6 separate regions of the Homo sapiens genome follow, and regions 1, 2, 3, 4 and 6 are each linked to region 5. Evidence: fine-mapped expression QTL. A gene starts in region 5. Each other region holds a variant in brackets. All regions are shown on one strand. Distances are between the middles of the regions.

The links. PIP is the estimated chance that this variant, and not a neighbour inherited with it, causes the effect.
Region 1: its variant is fine-mapped to the expression of VWF in whole blood (TOPMed, PIP above 0.99).
Region 2: its variant is fine-mapped to the expression of VWF in whole blood (TOPMed, PIP 0.98).
Region 3: its variant is fine-mapped to the expression of VWF in whole blood (TOPMed, PIP above 0.99).
Region 4: its variant is fine-mapped to the expression of VWF in whole blood (TOPMed, PIP above 0.99).
Region 6: its variant is fine-mapped to the expression of VWF in whole blood (TOPMed, PIP above 0.99).

What each region holds. Positions count from the first base shown.
Region 1 is chr12:6,052,670-6,057,669 of GRCh38, forward strand. It overlaps VWF (von Willebrand factor), which reads right to left. Exons shown (of 52, transcript NM_000552.5): 15 at 4,188-4,403; 16 at 1-114. Among named protein-coding and RNA genes, the nearest start is that of SNORA120, 15 kb to the left of the region's middle. The variant G/A (reference allele first, on the strand shown) is at 2,303.
Region 2 is chr12:6,063,242-6,068,241 of GRCh38, forward strand. VWF (von Willebrand factor) reads right to left here. Exons shown (of 52, transcript NM_000552.5): 11 at 1,896-2,032; 12 at 1,005-1,143. Among named protein-coding and RNA genes, the nearest start is that of SNORA120, 26 kb to the left of the region's middle. The variant T/G (reference allele first, on the strand shown) is at 2,007.
Region 3 is chr12:6,191,173-6,196,315 of GRCh38, forward strand. No RefSeq gene overlaps it. Among named protein-coding and RNA genes, the nearest start is that of CD9, 6.7 kb to the right of the region's middle. RefSeq lists an enhancer at 1-596 and a silencer at 2,924-2,973. The variant T/C (reference allele first, on the strand shown) is at 2,288.
Region 4 is chr12:6,081,089-6,086,088 of GRCh38, forward strand. All of the region lies in intron 6 of VWF (von Willebrand factor), which reads right to left. Among named protein-coding and RNA genes, the nearest start is that of VWF, 41 kb to the right of the region's middle. RefSeq lists enhancers at 1,754-2,500, 2,501-3,245. The variant T/A (reference allele first, on the strand shown) is at 2,265.
Region 5 is chr12:6,122,075-6,127,191 of GRCh38, forward strand. It overlaps VWF (von Willebrand factor), which reads right to left and starts at 2,596. Exons shown (of 52, transcript NM_000552.5): 1 at 2,347-2,596; 2 at 1,068-1,122. The coding sequence starts at 1,122.
Region 6 is chr12:6,165,236-6,170,378 of GRCh38, forward strand. LOC124902866 (a long non-coding RNA gene) reads right to left here and starts at 4,376. Exons shown (of 2, transcript XR_007063189.1): 1 at 2,913-4,376. LOC105369623 (a long non-coding RNA gene) reads right to left here. Exons shown (of 3, transcript XR_931588.3): 3 at 4,599-4,695. RefSeq lists enhancers at 2,576-2,855, 2,588-2,882. The variant G/A (reference allele first, on the strand shown) is at 2,660.

The DNA.
Region 1 (5,000 bases), 69 kb before region 5:
AGCCCTCCAGGCAGGCCTCATTGCATTCCTCATCCGGGTAAGAGAGAGAGCGGCAGGTCAGGTTGCAGGGGGTCCCGCACTGCAGGTACACCTGGCCTTTCGGGCAGTTCAGCTCTAGAAGAGAGAGGAGAAGTAAGGCCTCAGCGGGAATGTTGGACAGCAAGGACTGTGGTTCTAGGACTTGCCACCCCTTGTAGCTGTGACCCCCAATTATTTAATTAAAATTTTTATTGAGATAATTGTAGACTTGCTTGCAATTACAAGAAGTAATGCAGAAAGATCCCATGTACCCTTTACCCAGTTTTCCCCAAGTGACCCCCAATTATATCTGTATGGTCATCAACTTCCTTTCCCACTATGAGCAAATGTGTATTTTTCAGCATGCAGATATGTATTATAATTATGGGGGCACACATTTTCTCCTTTCCTCAACCACAGGGAATGTGCATTAGTCATCTCTGAATTCTCAAAGCCTAGGATGTAGTAGAAATCCTGGCAGGTTTTGAAGCTGTGAATATTAAAAAGTACTGGGAATGACGGGCAAGGGCATACCCCGTGACAACAATGAGTACCATTTATGGAGCACCTACTGAATGCCTTGCTCTTACGTGGGCTCTATGCCTCATGCCGAGTTAGCTCTCATCACCCCCTTTCAAGAAACTTAGGCTGAGTGACTTGTTAGGGGTATACCTCACAGGAAGAAGCAGAGGAAGGATTTGAACTCAGCTCTCTGCAGCCCTAAAGCTCATGCTCATAACCCTTACTCTCTAGAAAGAAAACAGTCCCTTTGAGGACATGCTGGTCCCAAAGAGGAGGGACACTCATGCCTACCACAGCGAAATGGGCTGCACCCATCTGCCCACAGCCCTCACCCTCCCTAGCCTCCCACAGAAAAATACTGCAAGAGACACAAGCCAGAAGGAAGTGTAGCAAAGTGGCAACGCAGCTAAGGGAACGGGCTCTGTATCCCAAATACCTGGGTTCACGCCCAGGTCCACCACTAGCTGGCTGTGTGATCTTGGGCAGTATCCTCACTGGATGGAATAACAGTATCCACCCAGTCTTTGTGAAGGTTGAATGAGCTAACACATTTAGAAGAATGTCTGGCATGTGGAGAATGTTCACTGCTAATAATGTTCACTGATAATAATTATTATTCTTATTGCTAAGGAAACAGCCCCAGCTCAGCGGTCCCAAGAAGGAAGGAGTGTTCCAGAGAAAGGCCTAGGCCTCAGAAGCTCTGGCATTCTGGTGACAAAATTCCTTATGGGCAGGGTAGAGGACAGGGAAGGTGTGGGGAGCATTCTGCCCTTTCAAAATGCCTTCCCTGTGCAGACCAGCTGCTGCCCAAGAAATGAGAACCTCACCCTGGGCATGCTTCTTCTGAGACCATCACAATCCTTCCCCTCTCTGTTCAAATCCATTGCTCCAGCAGAAACCTACTGGCAGGGCATTTCACAGATGTTATAAAAGTAAGCCTTGGCCGTGAGCCTGAACAATGGAGTGGGGAGCCTCTGGAGAGACCCTGCAGCCTCCCGCTCCTACAACCACCCTGAACTTGGTGTTTGAAGGTAGCTGGGAAGGGAGGGCCTCTTTAATCCTATTAGACATTGATTTTTCTCTGCAAGAATGGAAAGGTTGGATTATTGGATGAATACTGAGGGAGTGTAGGTTAAGACAGGATGTGTTAGACAATAAAGATGGAGATGTCTTTCAACCACCTGAGCCTACAATGACAAGGGCACATTTTACCCATTAAAAAGCAGCTAGACTTGAGAACTTTCTTTGTTCTGATAGGCTATCTCTAGGGCTGGCTTGGAGCCTTATTAAATTTCTCCTTTAGCCTTCTTCCCCAAAGAAACAATGCACATCTCAGTTTAGCAGACACTTCTTGTGTATCCACTGCATGCCAGGGGCTATGCTAGGCCCAGGGAGGCAGAGATGGCCAGCCCTGGTCCTTGCCTTCAGAAAGCCTGTGGTCCTGTCTTCCCAAAGGGAGCACAACCAATTTGCAAGAGGAAAAAAAATGTGTGTGCTTCTCATCAATCTCCTCACACCATCCCACAAAGTAGCTACATGGTAAGTCTGTGCTCCCTGAGTGTCTCCAATTGATGTGACCTCTTCTTACGAATAGATTCACTGGTTTAGGGAGCTCTGTTCATTTCTCTGGAAGAGAAAGTGGAAGTGGGTAGAGGGGACAGCTGAGCCTGAGCTCTTCTCCAAGTCAAGAAAAGATTGGGGCAAGAACCCAGGAGACTTACCCAACTGCCTTGGGTACAAAGGGACAGCCCAAGGCCATCTG[G/A]TCAGCCCAGTCTCTTGTCACATAAACCCACAGAGACAGACCCCTCTTGTCCTTAACAGTCTCCAGGGAAAGCTCCTTCCTACCACCCTTTCTACCCTATCGTAATGCCTCAGGAGTCAAGACATTCTTTAACTGAATCTTATCCCCACTACTGAAGCATCAGCCCATTTCCCCTGTTCTGTTCAGTGGAGGTTAAGAATGGCTGTTCATGACAGATTAAAGAATATTTCAGTGGGCCCTTAGCATTCCAGGAGAATGTCCTAAATTAAGAAATCCTGCGGATGCTGCCACATACTGATAATGCATCATTTCTAACACTGGTGGACAAGCAAAGAATATTCACAAGCAGCATCTCATTCACTCCTCATTACTTTCCCCAATTTCTAAATAGCAAATGCTAAGGAAGAAACTGAAGTGCAAAGGGGTTACGTGAAGGGTTCAAGGTCCCATAACTGGTACCTCACGGGAAAGTTGCCAGTAAGGACCCAGACCCAGTTGTCCCAGCCCCTAGCCTGTGGCTCCCCAAGACATCCCAGAGCTGGAGGAATGGGGAGGGCACAACGGCTGCATTATGTGCTCGTCCCTTTCGTCCTTACTGTTGTCTCTGCTCCTCTTTCATATGACATTTCTACAACTCAAAACATGAGTTGGCTCATTGGACCCAAAATAGTAGCACTTCTAGGGTCCCCATGCCTACACTGCTCCTGAAATATAGATGCTAATTCCTTTCACTGTTTCTCATAACTCCTCTTCCAACAGGACCATCTACTTTATATATATATATATGTATACACACACACACACACACACACACACACACACACACAGGGTCTTTCTCTGTTGGCCAGGTCAGAGTGCAGTGGTGCGATCATAACTCACTGCAGCCTTAAATTCCTAGACTCAAGCAATCCTCTTGCCTCAACCTCCCAAGTAGCTGGGACTACACCTACATTTTAATTTCTAAACACATCTACTTTACCCTAAAAAACAGAATATCCACTATGCCTTATTCTTAACAGAATATACTCGTCACTTCTATGCCTACTATGATTCTACCATTGGAAACAAGTCTTCTCTGCCAAGAAAGCAGCTTTTTAAAACCCTAGCCAAGTACACGTCCTCCAGAAAGCCTTCCTTGGTTTTCCCTGCCCTGAATCTACTCATCCTTTCACTTAGTAGGATAGGTATCTAGTAGGGCGGCCATTTCCATCTGTGACTCTAACAGTAAGTTTGGAGTTCCACATCATCACTGTTGCCCGACCACACTGGGCATGCAGCAAATGTCCCCAGAGCAATAACAAAAACAAAAAAGTGAGCACAATAGATACCACCTCTGGTGCCAGGAATCCAACAGTGCAGAGTGAGAATCTAAAGCCAACTGGGGACAGTGATGTAATTCACCTTTAGGTAACTTTATACAACGCCAGAGGTTTTGTCCATCGGTGGTTTGCCTGGAGTTACAAGCAAAGGGTTTGTATGTGAATTTCCCTTGCCTTCATCGGACTCTTAAGGGAGGCGGAGACCCAGTGGGATCTGGGACCCATTCGCTCCACAGCCTGACCTTCTGTGCTGAACGAACACTAGGTGGCAGCGGCCACGGGAAACCCAAGCTTTGCAGGGACCCCCACGTTCTAGGCCTCCAGGTAGGAGGAGCCAACCTGTCTTCCTGGAACAGGCCCGAATCATCAGCCGGTCCCCACCGCCTGTCCTGCTGGGAGGTGGAAGGGAAAAGTGGGTGCAAATGAACCGTCCTCCCCACCCGTGTTTGTCACAATGCCCTACGCCCTCTTTCCACAGGAAACAACGCAGAGAAAGGGCTTCGAAAAGCACACGTGGACGGATTTGGGGGGCGGCCCGGAGGGCTGCGGGCAGGGAGGGCACGCACCACAGCGGCCTGGCTCGCGCCACGCGACGCGCACGCCTCTCCCCGCGCAGGCCGCGGCATAGCTGGCCAGGGCGCCGCACAGGCACTCGCGGCCGTCCGAGCAGGAGCACACGTCGTAGCGGCAGTTCCGCAGGTAGGGCAGCGGGCTGACGGCACGATGGCAGGCCTCGAATGTGGGGGACGTCAGGACCGCGCACGCCTCCTCGGAGAACCTGGCTGTGGGGCGAGAGGAGCGAGCCTGGGATGTGGTGGGGAGGAGTGGGGGCCACGCCCTCCCGGTCAACACTCCCCTGGAAATAGCCCAGTGCTGCTAATAGAGGGCTGCAAGGTCACGCAGAGAAATCTGCAAATGCCACCCCCACCCCCAAGTCCATTTATCTTACAATCATCTAACGCTGAGTTTGTAAGCTGCTGCTGCAGTAGACTGGGAAGGTCGAAGGACGGGGACTATGGAATTTTTTTTTTTTTTTTTTGGAGAGACACGGTCTTGCTCTGTCGCCCGGGCTGGAGTGCAGAAATGCGATCTTGGCTCACTGCGGCCTTGCCTTCCTGGGTTCATGCAACCGTCCCACGTAGCTCCCAAGTAGTTGGGATTACAGGCGCGCCCCACCACGCCCGGCAAATTTATTATTATTATTATTATTATTATTATTATTATTATTATTATTATTTTAATAGAAATGGGGGCTCCCTACGTTGCCCAGACTGGTCTCGAACTCCTGCCCTCAAGCGATCCTCCCGCCTCGGTAGACTTTTTTTTTTTTTTTCTTTCCCGGGGGTTGGCCTGTGGCGGGCGCCCAATAAAGGGACTTT
Region 2 (5,000 bases), 59 kb before region 5:
GAGCGCAAATAGGGTCCCCCAGGAAGAAGCCTCTGCACCCCCCGCTATGACCTGCCATTCCCCCTACTGCCACAGGAGGGAGGCAGAGGCTCCTGCATCCTGGGCTGTAGGCAGGTGCCCTGGAGCAGAGGGGGATCTCTTTAGCATTGACACCACGACATCTGAATGTGCCTGGGACACTCTGCCACTGCACACCACCTCATGTCTGAGCGATGCTGTGTACGACACTGAATACAGCAATTGTTGCTTCTGTGGGAAGGTGGCGACAGATAGGAGCACACCCCTTGCCCTGGGGGAACAAACATATCTTATAAGGAGACACACAGCATAACACCCATGGACGTGCTGGGTACCCACTAGCCCAAGTTCATCCGCTGTGTGCAATGCTAGGATAATGGGCGACAAAGTGGCCAGCAGTTGTGGAGAAGAAGGAAGAGTCTGAGAGCCACTTTGAGTGTGAAGTTTGGGAGCTTTACCATGCAAAAGCAGGTTTGCTTTGACCGGCACAGTGCAACCCAGGTGAAGATACTGGACAGGTAGGTTTTTTGCTACCTCTAGACAGGCCAGAGGGTCACCTGGCCTCGCCCCAAGTGGCATCCTCTGGTGTGACATCACCAGCCACCCCCGATCTCTCAGCATCAGCCTCTGCCCCTGTCCCACCCCAGAGCAAACCAGAACCACCTGCCCAAGACTCAACTCGCCCCTTTGGTTCAAGCCAAATAAAAATCCTCTCGGTTCCCTTTTCCCATCTACACTCTGTCCCAGGTCTAGAGCAACCTCTTCATCTATAGGCTTCCTTCTCTAGTCTTCCTCCTCCAGGAAGCCTTCCTTTCTTGGAGGGATGCATGCCAAGCACCCCACCCTGCCCTCCAAAAATAACTCTCCATCACATTCCCATGGAAGAGGCATGCAGGTCCTTAAGGACAGTGGCCAGGGTTGAGAAGGAGGGTGCTAAGGGATGGGCTGTGCCAGCCCCAGGCCTGATGGAGCAGGACGAAGCATACCTTTCAGGAGGGGGAGCTGGACGTCCTGGCCATCCATGGCAACTCCTGCCCCATGCTTCAGTTTCACAAGGCTGTTGTGCAGGCCAGGCAGCCGGACGGTGACGGAGCGGGTGCACACAGCGTCGCGGTCATCAGCACACTGCCAAGAGGGAACACAGGGTGACTTTGCTGCACCCCCTGCCTATCCAGCTCCCCAGCCCAGGACCCTCTTAATCAGAGAAAGGCCTCAACCCGAGAGCCTCTGGCCTTCTCATAACCTACAACTCCATTCTCCCAGAATACTCCATGTGAATGGGGCCCCCTAGAGTTGTGCAGCAAGAAGGCTTGCTAAGTGCATCCTTGCACACGCCTTCTCCCAGCCTGGCCCAGTCTCTTATAAAGAACCATGGGCCTCTGCTTCATCGTGTTCCTTGGACCTACTGTTCCAAAGAGAATCAAAGACTTTGATCCTCAAGGAAAGCCCTGTGCATTCTCTTCGTCCTCATCTTTGCTTCCATCCCTACAGAAAGGAAGCCACACATGTACCACAGAGTTCAGAAGAGAAGACCAGCCCTCTTTGCCCCCACCCCAGCCATCCCCAGCTCCAAACATCAGAGGGTTAGTTATGGGGGCAACAGGCTAGACCCAAGCAGGATGCGTCCACTGGGTGGGGAGCTGAGCCAGCCCTGAGGAGGCATTATTGTCAGGGCAGGATGCCTTCCGCCAGCATCTAGGGAGAGAGGGGATGGGCTGGGTTTCTGGATGAATGAGGAGCTAACTGAAGTCTGGAAGAGACCTCCCTCATGCACAGAAAGCAATGCCCCACGCCTTCCAGGGACTGCCCATTCAGCCTAGCAGCTATGCAGCACCTTGGGCTACCACCCGACCAGCAGCCGGGCTGGCAAAGCTCACCTGGACAGTCTCAATGACAATGGAGAAGGAGTGGTCCTGGCAATCCCGGGCCAGCAGGTACTGGCAGATCCCACTGAAGGTGAAGTATCTGTTGTCAAAGCTCTTGAAGTG[T/G]GATTGACCTGTGACAAGGCACTCCCCTGGAGAGACACAGAGGAAGGGAGAAGAATGGGAGGTGAGGGCACTTCCCCTGGGGTGGCCAAGGTGGAATGCATATGCAAGCAGGGTGCCCTTCCCCAAAACTGCATGGACGTCCTTTGCCCAAACCAGTCTAAAAACAAGTTCTACGAGAAAATTCGGTTCCTGCTCCTAAAACTGCAAGATGTCAGAGCTGGGTCATTCAGGTCAAGGCCTCATTTTACAGATGGGGCAACTAAGGAAGGTGACAGAGCCACACTCAGTCAGTGGTGGAACCACGCAGGAACCCACGCTCCTGCTTCCAGGCTCCCTGCAGCCTCCCCTCCTCCCTCACAGCTCACTGCCATGTCCCACGCTACCTGCTGGCATCAGGGCCACACCAGCCTCAGACTGGTGCCAGCGGAATGCCTGGCCAGGGGGAGGCTGCCCAATAGCACAGGGTTCTCTGAACCTGAGTGTGGAGAGGCTCTGGGAAACAGTGTCACCCCTGGAGAGTCCCTGGAGGCCAGGGGGCAGAGTAGGCAGCCCAGAGGCAGGATGAGGTGGGAGGGTGAGGCAGGACAGTCTTGGAGCTCAGCAGTGAAAATGGGGACTCCATCCTCCTCACCAGCAGAGGGGCAACTCTAAGGCCATTGCTTTCTGCGTCCTCAGAGGGGCAAGCCCACGCTGTGACTCCAGCCAGGGCCAATGGGGAACCAGGAGGCCATCTGCCCATGATCTCACCACCACCCAGGCAGTGCTGACCTCGGCAGCGCCAGCTTCCCAGCCCAGGCTGACACATCTGTGGGTGGGGACTAGGACTCCCCTTCATCACCCTGCAACCCAAAGCCCTCAGCTTGTCCCCACCCTAATTCCCACACCATCTCCCCCACGCCCCAGCCTAGGCCCCATACTTGTGGCCCAATGCACCTCCAAACTGAGATCACACATCCTGGAAGGTGTCCTGGCAGGGGGAGGCCTCTGCCAATGTCTCCAGTGATTCTCCATCAACCTGCCTGGCTTGAGGCAATCCCATCTTCAGGGCCAAACATGGACCCATCAAAGCTGAAAAGGGCATCTGGATCCCTTCCCAACCTGCCCTATATATTTCCTCCACCTGCTCTCATCTTTGCTATCTACTCTACAGAAAAAGAAATATATATAGAGAGAGACACCATTGCCATTTGGTGAAGGAGGAAGACTTTTCCCACCCAGTCACTCTACGGTGCATGTGTGAGTTCCTTTCTCTAAGGATCAAAGCAAAGATGAGGACACATAGAGTGCACAGGGCTTCCCCTGAGACCCTCCAAACAGCGGAAGCTTGGCTGTCTACAGCGCTACCTCAGCCTCCACCTGAAGTTCCCCCTTTGGGGAACAGATGCTAGACCAACGTTGGAAAGACAAATGTAAGAGGGTCCTACAGACCATCCTATGTGGGCCCAGCTCCAGGGGCTAATGCTAGCCCTGTCACACAGCCAAGGGGTCCCCAAAAGGCACAGAGAGATTCTAGCTTGTCAAGGACAAGCTCCACAGGCCCTCACTGTCTGGCACTTCATGCTCGCATGTGCCCTGACAGGCCCAGCCAGGGGCCAGGCTAGACTGTGCAGTACTGGACCCAGGTGTGGGCCTGCCTTTGAGATGTGTATGAAGGCAGGATTAAGGATGAGGTGCCTCAGGGATGTACACATCCCTCTGCCTGGTCCCCAGGACAGTGGATCCCTTCCAGGACAGCATGGGTCAGGAGGGCACATCCAGCCCAGAGGAAATTAGGAGAAAGTGGAAAGGCCCCAGATCACTCCCATCAGCATGGCCCACCTTCTCCGCTGCCCCCTCTAGAAGAGCGGGAGTGAGGAGTGACTGTTCGTGGAGGACAGAGCAGGCCACAAGATAGGGGCCAGGATCGTCCCAGCCCATTCTGGATGTGCTGTAATTTCAAGTCCAGTGAGGTCTCAGGAAAGCCTTTTTGAACTGACCATTTTTCAGAAATTATCATCATTCTACAAACACAGTAATATGGTCATTTGTGTCAAATGTCTTGACCCCAGGGCAGTAAAAATGGGTGGGAATTCTTCCCCCTGCCTTTCTGTGTTTTCTCAGAGCACTCTTATCTAAGCAAGAAAATGGACTTCTGTCTTCTTTAACAATACCCAGGAAAAGAAGGGTCAACGAGAAATGTGCAAATATTCGAAAGGAAAACTTTCAGGGCCAGCATCTAATCGTCTCATCTGATTTCCTTCTCTGACCTTCACTGACTTGTGTTCCCAAGTTTCTCGCAAATCAGAAGTCTAAATATTATATGAGCTTATCTCCTCGGTACAACTGAGCAACAGAGCCACAAACACAGGAAAATGGGTGGGTGAGCTGCCAGGTAGCCGTTAGCCACGGGAGCTAGAACGTCAGCCAGAACTATGGGCCATGCGAACACGCTCACCCATCCTCCACCCAGGATGGGACACTAGGATATTCCCCATCAGTCAGCAACAGGCAGCTCCTGACGAACAGCGGGCCCACCACTAGATGGAGATGGGCACTGGAAGTTTGGGGAATGAATGAAAGGCAGGTGATTCCTAAAACTGCATTTAAAAAAAAAAGAGCATCCAGGCCGGGCCGTCATGGCTCATGCCTATAATCCCAGCACTTTGGGAGGCTGAGACAGGCGGAGCACCCAAGGTCAGGAGTTCGAGACCAGCCTGGCCAACATGGTGAAACCCCGTCTCTACTAAAAATACAAAAAATTAGCCGGGTGTGGTGGCAGGTGCCTGTAATCCCAGCTACTCGGGAGGCTGAGGCAGGAGAATTGCTTGAACCCAGGAGGCAGAGGTTGCAGTGAGCTGAGATCACGCCACTGCACCCCAGCCTGGGCGACTGAGTGAAACTCTGTCTCAAAAAAAAAAAAAAAAAAAAATCCAGAAGTTAAAGCAGATCCATTTCTATGTGAATAAAGATCCTGCCTCATGAAAAAAAACAAAACGGAACCTCTCACCTAATGGA
Region 3 (5,143 bases), 69 kb after region 5:
CCCGCCAAGCCCACGCCCACCTGGAACTCCAGCTGGCCCGCAAGCGCCGCTCACAGCCCCGGTTCCCGCTCGCGCCTCTCCCTCCACACCTCCCTGCAAGCTGAAGGAGCCGGCTCCGGCCTTGGCCAGCCCAGAAAGGGGCTCCCATAGTGCAGCGGCGGGCTGAAGGGCTCCTCAAATGCCGCCAAAGTGGGAGCCCAGGCAGAGGAGGCCCCCAGAGTGAGCGAGGGCTGTGAGGACTGCCAGCACGCTGTCACCTCTCAAGGGGACCAGCGTTCAGCATACGGAGGATCCCGCCAGCCTCTGAGTTCCCTTAGTATTTATTGATCATTCTTGGGTGTTTCTCGGAGAGGGGGATGTGTCAGGGTCATAGGATAATAGTGGAGAGAAGGTCAGCAGATAAACACGTGAACAAAGGTCTCTGCATCATGAACAAGGTAAAGAATTAAGTGCTGTGCTTTAGATATGCATACACATAAACATCTCAATGCCTTACAGAGCAGTATTGCTGCCCGCATGTCCCACCTCCAGCCCTAAGGCGGTTTTCCCCTATCTCAGTAGATGGAATATACAATCGGGTTTTACACCGAGACATTCCATTGCCCACCTTCCTCTTGTCTCAACTGCAGAAAGGTGTTCCTTCCTCTTTTACTAATCCTCCTCAGCACAGACCCTTTACGGGTGTCGGGCTGGGGGACAGTCAGGTCTTTCCCTTCCCACGAGGCCATATTTCAGACTGTCACATGGGGAGAAACCTTGGACAACACCTGGCTTTCCTAGGCAGAGGTCCCTGTGGCCTTCCGCAGTGTTTGTGTCCCTGGGTACTTGAGATTAGGGAGTGGTGATGACTCTTAAGGAGCATGCTGCCTTCAAGCATCTGTTTAACAAAGCACATCTTGCACCGCCCTTAATCCATTTAACCCTGAGTTTGACATTGAGATTAACAGCATCTCAAGGCAGAAGAATTTTTCTTAGTACAGAACAAAATGGAGTCTCCTATGTCTACTTCTTTCTACATAGACACAGTAACAATCTGATCTCTCTTTTCCCCACACCCGCCATCATGCCCAGCTAATCTTTTTTTTTTTAGACGGAGTCTCACTCTCACCAGGCTGGAGTGCAGTGGCGCAGTCTCAGCTCACTGCAACCTCCGCTTCCTGGGTTCAGGCGATTCTCCTGCCTCAGCCTCCTGAGTAGCTGGGATTACAGGCACCTGCCACCACGCTCAGCTAATCTTTTTTTTTTTTTTTTTTCTGAGACGGAGTCTCGCTCTGTCGCCCAGGCTGGAGTGCAGCGGTGTGATCTCAGCTCACTGCAAGCTCTGCCTCCCGGGTTCACGCCATTCTCCTGCCTCAGCCTCCCTAGTAGCTGGGACTACAGGCGCCCGCCACCACGCCTGGCTAATTTTTTGTATTTTTAGTAGAGACAGGGTTTCACTGTGTTAGCCAGGATGATCTCGATCTCCTGACCTCGTGATCCGCCCGCCTCAGCCTCCCACAGTGCTGAGATGATAGGCGTGAGCCACCGCGCCCGGCCGCCCAGCCAACTCTTTTAAACAGATGCATGAAACCTGAAATTATCACCCAGGACAAATCTTGTAAGAGTCTAGTGGATGATTCAGAAAGAAGTTGCTACAGGAGTGTCCTGAGAAAGAGGATCAGAGCAGACTAAGATGACTGAGGGTGCTGGGGAAGGCAGGGGCTGGGCTGGCCTCAGAGATGGTGCAGGCTGCTTGAAGGGCAGAAAGGAGGAAGTGCCAAGAGCTTGGGCTTCGGAAAGAAGAGGTGGGGACCCAGGCATAGAGCTGGGGATGCATGTGGTATTCCAAAAGAGTGAACAGATTTGCAAACAGAGGTTAAGGCGAGAGAGCAGAGGGCCTGTATGATGATCTTACAATTGAGACATCGGCTTTCCATACATTCAATAAATATTGTGCACCTACTGTATGTCAGGCACTGTTCAAAGCCCTTGGGATACATAGAGAACAGAACAGCCATGCGGATTTTGCATTCTAGCTGGAGGAGACAGGTAAATAGCAATGCACATACCAAGGAAACATTCCACTCTGTGAGAAGGTAAATGCTATGGGAGCATTGTTTGGAAGTAGAACAGGGGTAAGGGGAGTTGGGAGATCTTTGAGCAGGAAAGAGTAAAGCTGAGCTTCAGGAGTCTGATGAAAGGATGATATTAAATATTGCTTGTTTAGAATTGCTCCCCGCCTGCCCCCAACCCCCATATACTAAGGAGGACAGACCCTGAGAGCCATGATTTGTTTTGCTGAGCAGGG[T/C]GAGGGGAGGTGGGGACACAAACGGAAAATGCCAAGTTTAGAGCTAAATTGCTCCACACAGACATATGCAGAGGACATCCACAGGGCAGGGGGCTGGCTGAGGCTGGGCTGGGGGGCAGATGATAGGGGTGGCTGCCACAGATTGGACGTTTGAGAAGAGCTATCCAGAGGGATTCTTAGAATGGTTCTCTCTGGCATATGAGAGGGAACCCCTCATCCACCTATCCGTGAAACCTTCATAAAATCCACACTGGACATAGGCAGTTTCCAGGTTGAGTGTGTGTGTGCTTAATGCAAGGAAAAGAAGTGATGGGTGAGAGGAGGGCAGCCCACCCCCAAGGACGCACGCAGCAAGACTCTCTGGGTCCAATGTTGTGTCCATCCTGGGCAGGTGAACAGCAGCGAGGCAGGGCAAGGGTAGAACAGCCGTTTGGGCTGCAGATGAGCTTCCAGGATGCAGCCCCCTTGCGGATGGCAGGGCATCAGGGGGAACAAAAGATCAGGATCCAACCCTGGACTGAAACCAGAAGCTCTGAGGTCTGATCTGTGCTCTGCCACTCAATCACTACAACCCGCCTTAGCCCTGGTGCCTCCCAGCAATGACGTAAGAACAGCTAAGAAACAGGAATCACATTCACTAAGCAGCTGTGAGGCTGGGGGAAGGAGGAGCCCCAGGTGATGGGAGGTGTTGGTGCTGACTGATTAGAGACAGGGAGGGCTGAGGAGAAAGTCAGCTGCGAGCCTAGAAAGCCCTTGGAGATTATGAATTCTGATCTTGATGTTTACATTGAGATTACTATATTTCCTATTGCTTCGGTAACAACCACAAATTTAGTGGCTTAAAGTAACACATATTTACTATTTCACAATTCTAGAGGTCTGAAATCTAAAATGGGTGGGCAGGGCTGTGTTGGATCCCTCTGGCAGCTGCAGGGGAGAATTCGTTTCTTCGCCTTCTCCAGCTTCTAGAGGCTGTCCTTGTTCCCCAACACACAGCTGTGCATCACTGCGACCTCTGCTTCTGTCGTCACATCTCCTTCCCTGGCTTTGACACTTCCACCTGTCTCTTATAAGAACCCTTTGGATTCCACTGGGCCCACTGGGATGGTCCAGGCTATGCCATGGAAAGTAACACATTCACAGTTTTGGGGATTGGAACGTGGGCCTATTTGGAGGGCCGTTAGAAGTGGAAACGGGCCAGGCACGGTGGCGCACGCCTGTAATCCCAGCACTTTGGGAGGCTGAGGTGGGCGGATCACCTGGGGCCAGGAGTTCAAGACCAGCCTGACCAACAGGAGGAAACCCCATCTCTACTAAAAATATAAAAAATATAAAAAATATAAAAAACACGGTGGCTTACGCCTGTAATCCCAGCACTTTGGGAGGCTGAGGTGGGTAGATAACGAATTCAGGAGTTCAAGACCAGCCTGGCCAATATGGTGAAACCCCGTCTCTACTAAAAATACAAAAATTAGCTGGGCATGGTGGTGTGCGCCTGTAGTCCCAGCTACTTGGGAGGCTGAGGCAGAAGAATCACTTGAACCCGGGAGGCAGAGGTTGCAGTGAGCCAAGATCGTGCCACTGCACTCCAGCCTGGGTGACAAAGCGAGACTCCGTCTAAAAAAAAAAAAATTATTAGCCGGGCATGGCAGCGCACACCTGTAATTCAATCTGCTTGGGAGGCTGAGGCAAGAGAGTCTCTTGAGCCCAGGGATGGAGGTTGTAGTGAGCCGAGATTGAGCCACTGCACTCCAGCCTGGGCAACAGAGCGAGACTTGGTCTCAAAAAAAAAAAATCTGCAGGCTCTTGGATATCAGGACTTGCATTTACAGAGAGATGAGTTAAACAGAGAAAATGGTGGAAGGCACAAAAGGGGATGAGTGCTCCAGGAGAGGTCTGAGAGAGAAGGGCAGGGGCCTGAGAAAGCCCCACGCCCAGCCGTCATTCTGCAGATGTTTGCAGAGGGCCTGCTCTGGGCCAGGAAGGGACCGGGAGCTAGGGAGAGCACAGAAATTAATCAAATGCAAGTGCACCCTCGAGGAGCTCACTACCAAGAAGTGGACACATAAAGGAAGATGATGATGACCAGAGAATCACACATGCGAGACTCAAGGTAATCCACGGAGAAAAAGACTGGAGTGCTCCAGGAAGGCTTCATAAGGTGGTGTATTTGAGCTTAGAAAGAGGAACAGGAGAGAAGCTTCTAGAAGTGAAGGAGGTGAATCAAGATGGCCACTGGTGTGGTGGCTGGAAGGGCCTTGGTGGCCTGTGAGAGCGAGGGTCCTACCTGTTGCCTTACAAAGCCATTGCCCACAGCTGGAGGGACCTGGGGCATGGGTGTGACGGCTCATTAGGTCACCTGGCCTCTGCGTGTTCAAATCTTACCACCAGGGGGGGCACAAGAGCCAAAGTGGACCCTGAGCCTGAGCTGGGGTTTCTTTCCCAGAGACAGGACGCCTTGAGGGAAGGGAGGAAAAGCTTTCCCACTCCAGCACCACAAAGCCTGGAAGGCCTGGCTGCTTCCATGTGATTTCTGACTCAGGGGCTTACCCATATTTTCCTCTTCCGGTTAAGGCAAAACATAATTTTTCCATCGCTCACCTTCCTGGTTGCCTGTAGCACTAACTGTCTGTAACAAATGCACTTTGGCCCAGGGGTTTATTGTGACACAGAATGTCAGGAGGAATGAAAGACACCTCCTGATCCAAAATGCTGTGAACCAAAAAGTATCTGAGACAGGTCTCAATCAATTTAGAAAGTTTATTTTGCCAAGGTTACAGATGGGCGCCCAGGAGGCAGATCTGTGCCTTCTGCAAAGATGATTTTGAGGGCTTCAATATTTAAAAGGCGGCTGGT
Region 4 (5,000 bases), 41 kb before region 5:
TCCTCCTGCGTTCAGGAAAGGCTGAGGCAAACCTCACCTCCTTCTCCACAGCTGACCTCTCTCCTAGCCCACCTAAAGTACTTTCAGAGACCATCTCATCACCCATGCCACAAATGGGCCCTTCAGAGGCCTGAAGACACCTCCAAAGAACACAGCTCTCCTCAGACAAAGGCTGATACAGACAGCCTTTCAGATTTAGAAACTGAAGCATGGAGTGGGTAAAGAATTTACTAGGCCAGTGGTGTTTTTTGTTTTGTTTTGTTTTGTTTTGAGACAGAGTCTCGCTCTGTCACCAGGCTGGAGTATAGTGGCACGATCTCAGCTCACTGCAACCTCCGACTTCCTGGTTCAAGGGATTCTCCTGCCTCAGCCTCCCAAGTAGCTGGGATTACAGGTACGCGCAACCATGCCCAGCTAATTTTTGTATTTTTAGTACAGACGGAGTTTCACCATGTTGGCCAGGATGGCCTCGATCTCCTGACCTCGTGATCCACCCGCCTTTGCCTCCCAAAGCTCTGGGATTACAGGAGTGAGCCACGGCACCTGGCCTAAGTCAGTGGTTCTTAAGGTGAGGTCCAGGGATCGCCTAGGACTCCCAAGATCCTTTCAGCAGTGCACGAGGTCAAAACTGTTTTTATAATAATACTAAGATGCTATTTGCAATTTTTTCTCTCACTCTTTCACCAGAGTGCAGTGCAGTTTTCCGAGGCTATGAGACATGAGATATCCCAACAGATTTAAATGCAGACGCAGATATGAGAGTCCAGATGATGTATCTGAAGCCAGACAGCAAGGAGATTTGCAAAACTGTAAAACAGTGTCATTTTTCCCCTAAATTATTTTTTGGCTTGGAATTTATCGTTCTTTTTATTTAAAAATATGGTGTTTTTTTTTTTGAAACGCAGTCTCGCTCTGTCGCCCAGGCTGGAGTGCAGTGGCACAATCTCGGCTCACTGCAACCTCTGCCTCTAGGGTTCAAGCAATTCTCTTGCCTCAGCCTCCTGAGTAGCTGATATTACAGGTGCACACCACCACGCCCGGCTAATTTTTGTATTTTTAGTAGAGACTGGGTTCCACCATGTTGGTCAGGCTGGTCTCGAACTCCTGACCTCATGATCTGCCCGCCTAGGCCTCCCAAAGTGCTGGGATTGCAGGCGTGAGCCACCGCGCCTGGCCTAAAAATATGTTCTTTACATTAAATATGATGAGCTTGTTATTTTAAAATGAATCAAAAAATGTTTTAAATTTGTTTTAATATCTAATATGGTAAGTATCAAGAGTTATGACCCACATAAACAAAATCTCTTTAAAGTCCTTCATTATTTTTTAAGAGTATACAGGGGCCCTGCGATTAAACAGTTGGAGAACTGCTATACAATCGTTAAATTTTAAGTTTAGCCGAAAGCTGCCTCCTTACATATTTTAAGTTAGGCCTAAAGGTTTCTCCCTACATAATGAACTGTAACCTAACTGGAGATGTAAACACACTGTAACCTCCTCTTGGGGCAGCCCACTGTTCAAACTACGTTCTAATAAGGCAAATGTTGCGCTGTAGCCAATCCAACTGTTTCTCTACCTCACTTCCAGTTTCTGTAAGTCACTTGTCTTTTTCTGTCCATAAATCTTCTTTGACCATGAGGCAGGCCAGAGTCTCTCTGAGCCTGTTCTGATTCGGGGGCTGCCTGGTTCATGCATCATTCTTTGCTCAAGTAAACCCTGTTAAATTTAATTTGTCTCAGGTTTTTCTTTTAACACTAGTGATGGGGTGCAAACCCTGAGTGCCTGAGTCCATTCCAAACCACAAATTACAGTTTTCCATCCTGCCCTCCCACTCCTGTTTCCTAGCAATCAGATTAGAAGACAGGGTCATACAGTGGCTGTAGCTCAGGTTTTAGAAGCATGGTTGGGCTAGAATCTCAACCCATCACTTTCTTTTTTTAGATGAAGTCTCGCTCTTGTTGCCCAGGCTGGAGTGCAATGGCGTGATCTCAGCTCAATGCAACCTCTGCCTCTCGCAACCCATCACTTTCAAAGCGTGTGACTTTAAGAAAATGATCTTGGCCAAGTGCAGTGGCTCACACCTGTAATCCCAGCACTCTTGTATTTTTAGTAGAGATGGGGTTTTGCCATGTTGGAAGGGTAGTCTCAAACTTCTGACCTCATGATCCACCCACCTCGGCCTCCCAAAGTACTGGGATTACAGGCGTGAGCCACCGCAACCGGCCTGATCCCAGCACTTTTGGAGGCCAAAGTGGGCAGATCAC[T/A]TGAGTCCAGGAGTTTGAGACCAGCAATATGGCAAAACCTTATCTCTACAAAAATATCCAAAATTAGCCAGGCGTGGTGGCACGTGCCTGTAGTCTCAGCTACTAGAGAGGCTGAGGTGGGAGGATCACTTGAGCCTGGGAGGCAGAGGTTGCAGTGAGCCAAGATTGCACCACGGCACTCCAGCCTGGGCAAGAGAGCGAGACTCCGTCGCAAAAAACAAAAAAGAAAAGGAAAATTATCTTGCCTCTCTGCATCCTCATTTCCCTACCTGTGAAAGAGGGGAAAAGTGGAAGAGGTTGAAAGTTGTCCAGGAGCTATTCTCCCCTTCTTAGTCACAGAATCCTCAGTTTTCAATTTCCCACCCCCACGGGGCACAGAGCTGCTAGGAATAAGATTCCATTTCTCAGCCTCCCTTGCAGCTGGGGGCAGCCATATGACTAAGCAATACCCAGTAGGCTATAAGCAGAGGGGTCTTGTGCAACCTCCACCAAGTGTCCTCAAAATAAGGGACTGCTTCTTCCTTAGTCCCTTCTCTTTCTACTGCGGGAATGTAGTTGTGATGCCTGAAGCTTGAGCCGGCGTTTTGGTGCACAAGGTAGAAGCCCCCACTGGGGACAACAGAGAAATAAGACAGAGGGACCCTGGATCCCAACACCATGAGATCTTGCATGGCCCTGGACATCCTACCCCAAACTTCTTTACATGAGAGATAAATAAACTTAGATTGTATAAGTCCTGTCACTCACAGCTGAACCTACTCCTAACTGACACAGACAGCAGTACTTGGACCTACCCTAGATGGTTTCTGCAAAATGAAATCAAATGAGATGACACCAGGAAATCAAATGCTTATAACTATTCTCATTTGCCTGCAATCGGTACTGGCTCCTCAGTTCTCTGCTAAACCATTCTGGCAGGGATGCAAAACAAGGGCCAGCTAATTTGCACACTTCCAGCATCTCCCTGGCTCCAAGGCCCTGCATCAGCTACTCCTGTCTTCTTTCAACTCCTGTCGGCCGTGCCAGGAGCTGCGGGAGAGCAGCTGCCCCAGCCCATCCAGCCATGACCTCACCATGCCTGGGTTGGTGTGCAGGCCCAATTGTGGCCCATCTTAATCACATTTCCAGTTCATTAAAGAAGACCAGGCATCTTCCCTGGAGACATCAGGCGGGTGCAGGGGAGGAGGAGGGAAAGCAAGCACATCTCAGTGGCAGGCAGCAGGAGGAGAGAAAGCAGAGCCAGAGATCTGAAGCTTAGCTATTGTGTTTGCTCCCAAGCAGCTGACAAAGGAGAAGGGAGGGGGACATTCCTAGGACTGAGTGAACAAAGAAAGGAAAGTCTAATACATAGAGTGCAATATTGTTCCACAAGCCCTGATCTTTCTAGCTCTGGGATGGGTGCCCTGCAGCAGCCCCTGGTAGGTATGGAGGCGCCTGGAGTCTGAGCTGCTCCAAAGTAGTGGGTTCAAGAATTCACCCTGCAGCAGGGAATACTTTCTCATTGGTCAGCTGTAATGATGGGTGGGGGAGGGTAGCTGATTCTATTTATAACTTCTGGCCGGCCCAAGATTCCCACCCGCATTCCAAGATTCTGACTCACAAGGACCTGGTGAAACCTGTTGATAGATTTCCACCAAATGGATGGTTTCTGCAGAGCTTGACATTCCTCTCTCTAAGATAGCTGGGGTCCAGTGCTCATGAGAAGTAGGAGACTTGGCCATGGACCTCTCTAAGGGACCCTCCTCACCTTCTCCTTGGGGCTCCTGGAGGCATCTGAGCAGCTTCTAGGGATTAGGGCATGCTGGCTGGATGGACAAGGACGGGGCACCATTCCCTGGTTCCCAGTCTAGGGCCTACCAAGCTCTGGGGATGGAAAGCAGCCCTTTCTGAATCACTCACCCATCCTGCTCCCAGCAAGAAAAAAGCATCAGCTCTGTGACAGGAGCTAATTCCCCTAAGCTGCGCTATCACTTACCATTCACTTGGCGATTTGTCATTTACTAACCCCAGACAGTCTTTCATGGTTTAATTTCTCTTACGTGTCTTGTCCCTTAGTCTACGTTGTATCACGCAAGCCATATGAAACATCTCAGTGAATATGCACTTATGGGCACCATCAGATTCTTGTCCATTCTGTTGCTCACCAGGGAAAAGGAAAAGGGAAAGGAACCCACCTGAGAAATAGTTCGTTAAAGGATTTTGGGAACATTATGTTAGGGAGGCCTTTGAATTGAATGCTTGGGTGCTAGGTCCTTATCCAACTCTCCTCAAGGGCTTGTCAAATGAGCAACATAAAAAGCCAAGTTCCAATGAGAACACATGGACACAGGGAGGGGAACATCACACACCACGGCCTGTGGGCGGGGAGGGGGGGCGCGGGGGGCGGGGGCAAGGAGAGAGCGAGCATTAGGACAAACACCTAATGCATGTGGGGCTTAAAACCTAAATGATGGGTTGATAGGTGCAGCAAACTACCATGGCACATGTATGCCTATGTAACAAACCTGCACGTTCAGCACATGTATCCCAGAACTTAAAGTAAAATTTTAAAAAAAAATTTTTAAAGGCCAAGTTCAAGGGAAATCTGCAAAACCCCATGGTAGCCACTGACCTCTGCCATGAGGCTAGACCCCCAAGGGAACAGTGGCCAAGGTCACCACTGTTTCACCACAACCATTGGCTCCCTGCCCTTCTCCCATCCTGCACTCAGGTGAGCCAGTCTGCTGTAAAGAAAGG
Region 5 (5,117 bases):
TTATAAATTGGTGACCAACTTGTGCAAACTACCTATAACCTCTGTTTATTTCTCAATAGATTGTAAACAATTTGTCGTGCTAGTGTATATACTTCCAATATGCGGTTTTTAGTGGCTGCATTATATTTTGCATCTGAATGTCTATAGTATAGCCCTCTATTGTTAGGTTTCTAGCATTTTTCCATGTTTTAATATTATAGATAGATTGCAGTGAGCATCTTTGTACATAAATCTACTAGCATGTCTTGGGCATGTTAAATTTTAAACAGATCAGACTGTGTGCCTGACACATAGACTCTCTGAAGTGTGAACTCCTCCGGCGTCACAGGCTAACTCCTTCACTGACTATGGGTGTGTGTGTGTCGGCAGGTGGGGAAATACAGCAGTAAATCTCTAAGTGTTCTGGGTTCCCCGGCAAAAGACCCACCTAGTAGGAAGATGCAGAGAGTGTGACAAATGTGTATTTTTTTTCCCAGACTCACCTGTGGGCAGTAGCTGGATGCTGCTGACCTGAGAGATCTAAGTGGAAAGCGCCCAAGGTCAAAAGTCCCCTCCCGCCATTTGCAGACCCAGAATCTTAGCAAGGGAAGGGCAGCAGTATGATGCAGTGCAGTGGAAAGGGTGTTGGCCTGGAACCCAGGAAGACTGACCTCTGATTTTGGCTCTAGGAGACTTTGGAGCAGTCATTTCTCCTCTCTGACCCTCAGTCTCTTCATTGTACCATGGGAGGTTCAACAAGGTGACCTCCACAATCTTATCGAAAACTAATAATCCATCCAAGTCTTGGATTCCTTCCTCCTCATCCTGTGCCCCCATAATATAGGACAGTTCTGTGCCACCTTTATGCTTCTTAATTCCCCAACAGGAGATGGCATTTGCAGGCACCTGGTCTCTGGAATACAAGTCAAGGGTGGGAACTCCGCAGAACCTTCACAGGAGGCAACCAACAGCCTAAGTTAGGGCTGGGCACACAGGTGAGCTCCAGACACACCTGCTGATTCCCGGAAAGGTGTCACTCCAGATGGCCCTGGGGCAGGAATGAGAAATGGAGGCCCTTTTGTACCTACCTGGCAAAATGAGGGCCAGAGCAAGCAGCACCCCGGCAAATCTGGCAGGAATCATCTGCAAAGAAGCAAGAGACGTGAGCTGGTCATTGCTGCCCAGGTAGGCGGCTGCTGGTGTGGCGACTATCAGGGCATGCAGTAGCAAAAACATTTCTTTAAAGCAGGAGAAAAGATTGATCCTCGTGACCCCCTTTTCCCCTTTGAACATGGACTTCTGGCCCCCGAAAAAACCCCTGGCCAGTGCCAGGCCCAAGGGTAACAATCGCTGTGAGCTGGGACCTGTGGGCACCTTTCCACAGACAGCAGTCCCAGGCCCAAGACAGGAGGAAAACGCTGCCTTCCCTCCAGGCCCGCTGGGCCTCACATCCCTGCCTCCTGAAGCAGCTGGGAGCTAACACACACCTCATTCCTTCCTGCCTCTGCATCCAAACTGGCGAGTAGGAACCGTCTTACACTTGTGTGCCCACCACAGCAGCCCAGACATAGAGAATGCTCAGGAACCACCAACTTGACGGTTTGCTTGTTGGCCCCTGACTCTGTACCACAAGTGCCTTCACAAGAGCAAAGGCTGTCTCCCTTGCCTCCAACCCCAGCACCTGGCAAGATGCTTAGCACCCAGGAGATGCCCAGCAAATGTTTGCTGAGTTCATCTGAAAAAATGGACAGGAGTCCAGCGGCCCTGGATGCAGGCAGACTTCCCCACTGTGTGACCCCCAAGAGAGGGACAATTCATCCTGGCTGGCAGAGCGTACCCCAAGTCACTTAGAGCCCCTGCTGTAGCCCCTCTCCTCGGGAAAAGTTGTTAAATGAAGTGCAGAATCTGCTGCCTGAGATTCACTGGGGGTGACTCCCTTCCTACCTAAGGTCCCATCCAGCCAAAGGTGAAATCAAGCCAATCTGTGATACATCTGTGGAAGGAACACTGAGATGTCAGATACTGCCAGGTCTCGGTCTCCAAGCAGGTGTCCCCTCCCAGTCCTAACACGCAGGTACATTCAGCTGCTCCCAGGTTCTCAGAGGTGAGGGCAAACTTCATTCCAACTCATTTGAGTGAAGTACTATCAAACAGTAAAACCCACTGCATGAAGAAAAGCAGCCCCAGGACCCTCAGAGGCAAGTGGAGGAGGGAGTATTAGGATCATCCCTGGCTGAATTGAATTGCCCCTCCAAACAAAGCCCTTCTAGTCCAGCGACAGAGAACTCCAGCTCCCCAGGAGCAGGGATCAGTCAGTCCTGCATCTTCCTCCCACAACTGAGCCAGCTCTCCTTCCAAAGGCCATACCTTCCCCTGCAAATGAGGGCTGCGGCTATCTCCAAGGTCCCTGGGAAACTCAGCTGCTGGACAATGGTGCCGCCCACCCTAGGCCATGCTCTCAGCTGCTGCAAAGGCTCAATCAGGTCTGCTACAGCTCCGGACTGTCTTGCTGTTATGTAGCCCAGGGGCTGTGGAGTCCCCACTGCTGGGGGAGATAAAGCCCAAGCTGTGACATCCACCAACCACCCTCCCTTTCCCACCACAATAGCTGTGAGCTGCCACAACAGGGGATTGGCCTCCTTTTAATTACCAAAAGGAAACAATGAAAGGAAATGGTATTAGAAGTACCTCCAAGCTGATAAAGCTTTGTAGAGTTTGGAGGGAGACCTCCTGGCAGCTGCCTTAATTAACTGCCTTGCCCTCCCCAAACACCCCCTATCCCTACACCCCCACACTTGATCCCTGGTCTTCCTAGAGTGCCCCACCTGTGTGGGATAACCAGGAATGCTGGTTGTTTCAGGGCAAGCTGATACAGGCCAGGGGGAATCACAGTAGAACAACACAGCTTCCTGATCCAGCTTCCAGGGCTGGACTCCAGGGAAGTTGAGAAAAACACCTCAACCTGAGCCAATTTTGCTGCTGTGTTTGGAGGAAGGGGAGTACTAACACTTCCTATGCACCCCAGGTATGAAGGATCCGGTCCTGGCCCTGACAAAAACAGTCCATTTGGATCCTGGCCAGGGTTGAATGGATCGGCTAAAGATGAAGGTCTTGGCCACAAGCCTAAGCCTTTGTAAAATGGTGAAGGTGGGGAGTGATGGTTTGAGTCTAATACTTCTACTGTTGCTACATTCTAATAATTCTAATTCTCAAGGACATTTCCACCCACTTCTGGTACCCTGATCTTACACACACACACACACACACACACACACACACACACACACAATTCTTCTTCCCAGCCTCCCATTCCCAAAAGCCTAATTCTCAACACCATCTGCTAAACTAATTCCTACTAAAATAAGTAACTGATGCAATGGGCAGCGGTGGGGGGAAGATGACTCTCGTGCTGGGATTCCAGGCACTGAGACAAGCACCCTGAGGCATGTCTGGGTATGGAAGACCTCCTCACTGCTTCTCCATGATACCTCCTGCCCTAAGACTTTGAGAAACCACTAGGTTCCAACCTCCTCCCTTCCCACATACCTCGCACTCTGCTACTCCCTTTACCGCCCCAGGAGAGGAAGATGCACACTCCCAAGGAAGAAAAATGGCACCAGAGGCAGAATCAGCATGAGACAGTAGAAAAGGCCATTGGGGGGCCGGGCACGGTGGTTCACGCCTGTAATCCCAGCACTTTGGGAGGCCGAGGTGGGCGGATCACGAGGTCAAGGGATCAAGACCATCCTGGCTAACATAGTGAAACCCCGTCTCTACTAAAAACACAAAAAATTAGCCAGGCGTGGTGGCGGGCGCCTGTAGTCCCAGCTACTCGGGAGGCTGAGGCAGGAGAATGGCGTGAACCCGGGAGGCGGAGCTTGCAGTGAGCTGAGATCGAGCCACTGCACTCCAGCCTGGGTGACAGAGCAAGACTCCGTCTCAAGAAAAAAAAGAAAAGAAAAGAAAAGGCCATCGGGATTTCCACTTCCAGCTCTTATTTAAAAAAACTAAATAACTAATCTGAAAACCCTTTCATTACAAAATATCTTTAAATGCTGTGCTAAATACAACAAATGTTCTTTAAATCCACAGTTGATCTGGGAGGAAAGTAAGGAATATCTTAAAGGGTCAATGAGGAAGAGGAGCCTAAATGAGCATGAGGCAGGGTAGGCCCATGGGTGGCCTAGCGTAGGCCAGTCTGGGAACCCTCCAGACTGGAGGCCGCACATTACAAGAATGGGCAGTGCAGCTACGGGCCTGACCCAGAGGGAGAACTAGAACGGAGATCCCTGCAAAAGCTGAAAGTTTGAAGGGAAACATCTTCCAAACAGTGGACCAGGAAAAAAATCCATCCCCCAACCTAGAAGATAAGGAAGTTTGCCTGTCTCCACTTGTTTTGGGGTGGGGTGGCGGGGGGAATTAAGTCTTTTTTTAGAATATTCTTTTCTTTCTTTTTTTTTTTTTGAGATGGAGTCTCGCACTGTCCGCTGGGCTGGAGTGCAGTGATGCAATCATGGCTCACTGCAACCTCTGCCTCCCGGCTTCAAGCAATTCTCCTGCCTCAGCCTCCCAAGTAGCTGGGATTACATGCACACACCACTACACCCAGCTAATTTTTTGTATTTTTAGTAGAGATGGGGTTCCACTATGTTAGCCAGGCTGGTCTCAAACTCCTGACCTCGTGATCTGCCCACCTCGGTCTCCCAAAGTGCTGGGATTACAGGCGTGAGCCACCACGCCCAGTCTAGAATTTTCATCCTTTGCACTCATGCAAATAAAGCTCTCTTGACGATGAATTCAAAATCACAAATTTTTCAACACTTGAGAAAACAATCTACCATGAGCAAGAATTAAATCCCTAAGAATTTCAGATAATAAAATCATCAGAGAAAGATAAAAAGAAAAAAATGAGTGTTTAAAATTATAATAGAGGCTAGGCACGGTGGTTCATGTCTATAATCCTGGCACTTTGGGAGGCTGAGATGGGATAATCGCTTGAGACCAGGAGTTCAAGACCAGCCTGGGCAACACAGCAAGACCCTGTCTTTACAAAGAATAAACTTTTTTCAAGGCAGGGCACGGTGGCTCACGGTGGGTGGATCACAAGGTCAACAGATCAAGACCATCCTGGCCAATAT
Region 6 (5,143 bases), 43 kb after region 5:
TGGCTGTGTTTTATGGAGTCACTGCAAACACTGAATTAGTGAATGCCAAACCAGTGCTCCTAGGGGAGATACAAGGGGAGGTTCCTGTGAGCCTCTGGTCACATTTTCATCAACAAATCAATGCATAACTTTTTCTTATGTGTGTTTCTGTCTAACGACACCTTATTCAATATATATTGCTGAATAATTCACATTGAACTCATAGCCAACAGCACTATAACTCATGCCTGCACGAAGCTTAACTACTAGACATATTTTCTCCACATGACACATCACAGCTTTCTCTCACTTAGGAACTCTGGACAGCACTTCAGCATGATGCTGGGACCATTTTAAACAGTGGAATCACCAACACGCAGCAGAAAAATGCAAAACACATGGTACCAAGTAGACCTTGAAAAGGACACTTGCTTGTGGTATGAGCTGAAACAAGAAGGCAGACTGTCACCTTGTTCACCCTCTGCTGGGAATGTGCACATCCTGCCAAATTTTTCTCTGCTCTGTGTTCATGGATGGCCATGCAAGCACTGTGAGTATTGATTTTGGCAATACAAGTAAATTGTATGGAGTAGACAAATTTTTATTTTTTTATTTTTATTTTTTTGAGATGGAGTCTTGCTCAGTTGCCCAGGCTGGAGTGCAGCGGTGCTATCTCGGCTCACTGCAAGCTCCACCTCCCATGTTCACACCATTCTCCTGCCTCAGCCTCCCGAGTAGCTGGGACTACAGGCGCCCGCCAACACGCCCGGCTAATTTTTTTTGTATTTTTAGTAGAGACGGGGTTTCACCATGTTAGCCAGGGTAGTCTTGATCTCCTGACCTCGTGATCCACCCACCTCGGCCTCCCAAAGTTCTGGGATTACAGGCATGAGCCACCACACCCGGCCAGAGTAGACAAATCTTTAAATACAGAATGTATGAGTGATGAGGATCAACTGAATATAGAAAGCCCCTAGAATAGTGCCTGCCCAGTAGGAAGCATTCGATAAATCGTGTTACTTTGTAAGCTTTACAGCAATCTGCTGAGATATTGCTATTTCCATTTTACAGATGAGGAAAGTGAGTGTCCAAGAGGTTAAAGACCTGGACCTGGTTCCCATGGTTGGTCAGTGGTGGTGTTGGGACTTGATCCCAGTTTCAGACCTGGTTTAACTATTTTGTGCATTGCCTAGAACACGGGCCCCTTCCATGCTCCCTCTCCACAGGAACACAGGCATGGGTTGTATGTGATACACACGCACAGGCAGGCCCCACACACAAGCAGAATTCCTGTGTTTACTCCTTTCACAAACCTCCTTAACTCTGAGGAGCCTTAGAAACAGAGAGGTGGCCGAGCGTGGTGGCTCACGCCTGTAATCCCAGCACTTTGGGAGGCCGAGGCAGGTGGATCACGAGGTCAGGAAATCAAGACCATCCCAGCTAACACAGTGAAACCCTGTCTCTACTAAAAAATACAAAAAATTGGCCAGGCGTGGTGGCGGGTGCCTGTAGTCCCAGCTACTTGGGAGGCTGAGGCAGGAGAATGGCATGAACTCGGGAGGCGGAGCTTGAAGTGAGCTGAGATCGTGCCACTGCACTCCAGCCTGGGCAATAGAGCGAGACTCCGTCTCAAAAAAAAAAACAAAACAAAGAAAGAAAGAAACAGAGGTTTCCCAGCTTCCTGCCCAGGCCACGGAACTCCTCCCTCCGGCTGCAGAGCTCCCACCTCTTCTCCCCCATTTCTGCCTCAGCATCTCCCACCCCACGCTGGCCACTGAGGCAGCCTGGCCAAAAGGAGCTGATAGCAGGTCCTCTCAGCTTCCTCTGCAGCTCAGCCAGGGGCCACAGCTGGGCCTGTCCAGCCTCACTTGACCAAGAACCGAAGTCCCAGGAGAAAGGAAAGTGAGGCCAGGATGGTGACAGGGTGGAGAAGCTGGGCCCCCAGTGAGCCCCCACAGAGGGTAGGACACAGAGGGACAAGTGTGAGGGGCAGTAACTGCCCGTAGGAATAGTGGCCATGGGAGAGACACCGTGGTGCCCACACCCCAGTAGGTCCTCAGTAAAACTAACATCCACCTGGGCCGCACAGGTAGCCCTGCCACCCTCCAGGGCCCAGGATTCTTTGAGTGAGTTTTAGAACGCCTCTGAAATCTGGGGAGATATGACAGCCCACAGCAATTTGCATTTTTTGCTTTCCTGTTATCAGAGGTGACTAAACTCTGGCCTTCAGGCCAAATCCAGCCAGCAGACTCCTATGTGCAGCTCACTAGCTAAGAATGGTTTTTACATTTTTAAAGTGTTGAGTAACAGGAGAAAATCTGGGGTGAGAGGAAGAGAGATCATATGCCCCACAAAGCCTAGAATATTTACCTGATGAAGAAAATGTTGCCAGCCCCTGACCCAGATGGATTTAGCAGTGGAAGCCCTGGCCAACCAAGTGTGAGTCAGGGTGGCCCGAACACCAGCCCACATCCACCCATCCCCAGTGTAGACATCAGGCATGTTATTCAGCCTCTATAAGGCTCACTTTTCCCTTCTGCAAAGTGGAGGCAATAACAAGAGCTGTGTCCCAGGGCTGTGAGATTACATTAGGTGTCGTCTATGTCAAGCCTTTAGCCCTTGGCATCCTGGGCTACTGTGTGGGCAGAACATGGGTGCCGGTGACGGCAGTGGTGGCGGT[G/A]GAGAGGCGGAGAGGAGGGAAAGGGTCCCTTCCTGACCAGCTGCTGTCTCCATATCTCAGAGAAATGGGGAAACTGAATCATGGGGGTGACTCATCTGAGGTCACCAGCTATAAATAGTCCAAAGACTCATGACAGACTGCAAGCAGGTCCTAGAGTCCTTCCGTCCACAGCCCCTATCTGTGTCTACCTCGCCCACATACACCCTTTCCTAGACTTCTGTCTTGGGCCCCATTCTCACGGGACATTGCTCACCGCGGCCGACTGATTGAACGCCTCTGTTGTCTTTTTTTGCGGGGTGGGGGGGGAGATGGAGTTTCACTCTTGTTGCCCAGGCTGGAGTGCAATGGTGCAATCTTGGCTCACTGTAACCTCCGCCTCCCGGATTCAAGCAATTCTCCTGCCTCAGCCTCCCAAGTAGCTGGAATTACAGGCATGCGCCACTACGCCCGGCTAATTTTTTGTATTTAGTAGAGATGGGGTTTCACCATGTTGGTCAGGCTGGTCTCAAACTCGTGATCTCAGGTGATCCACCCGCCTCGGCCTCCCAAAGTGCTGGGATTACAGGCGTGAGTCACCACGTCCAGCTGCCTCTGTTGTCTTAGATGCCAACAGCTAAAGTTATTTCATATCCCAGGGGCATTTCATTTCAACAGGTACATTCTAAACCCCCAAATATTCACAGATATTCACCTCTAATTGCTTGTCAGTCACAATGACAGGACCAAAGCATCCCTTGATTTTCCCAGGTTCCTCCCAACACTGGAACCAACGTCTGGGGTCAGCTCTCCGAATTCTCACAGTCTCAGATGTTTGGCTCACACTCTGGAGTAGACGGGCAGATGCAAGCACATGGCTTGGCTGGGGAGTTCAGTGTAGCTGTGTTGCAGCTTCTCAGGCCTCCGTTCTCCCGCTTGCCAGCCTGCTTGATAGGGGTAAGGTCCCTCAGAGGGGACATGAGGCCCCTTTGATCCCAGAATAACAAGAGAAAGTCTGGGGGGAGAGGAGGAGGTACTGAGATTCTTGGTACCTATACTTTATGAAATGAAGAAACATCTAAACAGGGTTGCAGAACTTGTGGTCTATTTGATCCTCGTTAGTATAGTGGTGATCATCAAAAAAAAAAAAAAAAGAGCTTGTGATCTATTTGAAATAGCTACATGGCAAAGTTAACGCTTTTAATCCCAAAGCATAATGCAATCTAATGATGCTAACCCACAAAAGCAATTTCAGGATGTATTTGCAAACATTACTTTATCCTGAACTCTTAGGCAAAGTCATGCAGCAGTGAGATGAATGGGAGTTTCATGTTGAACAGTGCATATTGTTTTCCGTTCTGTCGGGGCGTCTCTGTGTCTGATGCAGCATTGCTTTTCAGGGAGATGAAGTCCCTGAAAATGAGACCCAGGTCCCGAGGTGAAGCTCCTTCTCTGGGGTGCTCCGCAGGGATTCCTAGACGGCTGTCCCCCGCTGCTGAGCCACGCTGAGCTGGCTGCTCTCACTGGAATCCTGGAACTGGCTCTTCTCTCACATGGGCACTCCAAGGGCCACCAGCATCTCCTCCTACACAGGTGCAATTTTTTTCTTCTTTTTTCTTTTTCCGTTCCAGGACACTTGTCACCGCCCTGCCCTGTCCTTTCTCCTCTCTTCCTCCCTCTTAGGAGAGTTGCCAGAGTTGCCAGTTTCTTCTTCTTCTTCTTCTTTTTTTTTTTTTTTTTTTTTTTGAGATGGAGTCTCACTGTCACCCAGGCTGGAGGGCAGTGGTGCAATCTCGGCTGACTGCAACCTCCGCCCCCCAGGTTCAAGCAATTCTCCCTCCTCAACCTCCTGAGTAGCTGGGATTTCAGGCATGCACCACCATGCCCGGCTAATTTTTGTATTTTTAGTAGAGATGGGGTTTCACCATGTTGGCCAGGTTGGTCTCGAATGCCTGATCTCAGGTGATCCGCCCGCCTCGGCCTCCCAAAGTGCTGGGATTACAGGTGTGAGCCACTGCGCCCCGCCACCAGTTTCTTCTTTTGGTGCTCAAAAAATGATTCTTCAGAACATCATGGAAAGGGAGCAAAGAAAAGAATAGCTTTACACTAAAGAAACAGGTGACCAAGGTGAACACCAACAGCCATAAGTCACGTTGATAGTGCCCTTGATATCATGGGATGAGAATGACACTTACCTCTGTGGTCTCCCTCTCCAAAACCCAAACGCCAGTCTACTCAAGAGGAAAACATGAGACACATCCCAGTTAAAGGACATTCTGCAAAATCCTGACCAGCACCTCTCAAAATAGTCCAGATCACCAAAAACAAGGGAAGTCTGTGAAACTGTCACAGCCAAGAGGAGCCTACAGAGACATGATGACTAAATGTAATATAGAATCCTGGTGGGATCCTGGGACAGAATGGGGGCAATAGGTTAAAAAAAAAAGAAAGCTGAATAAAGTGTGCACTTTAGTTAATAATATTAGTTCATTAACAGTGACATATGTA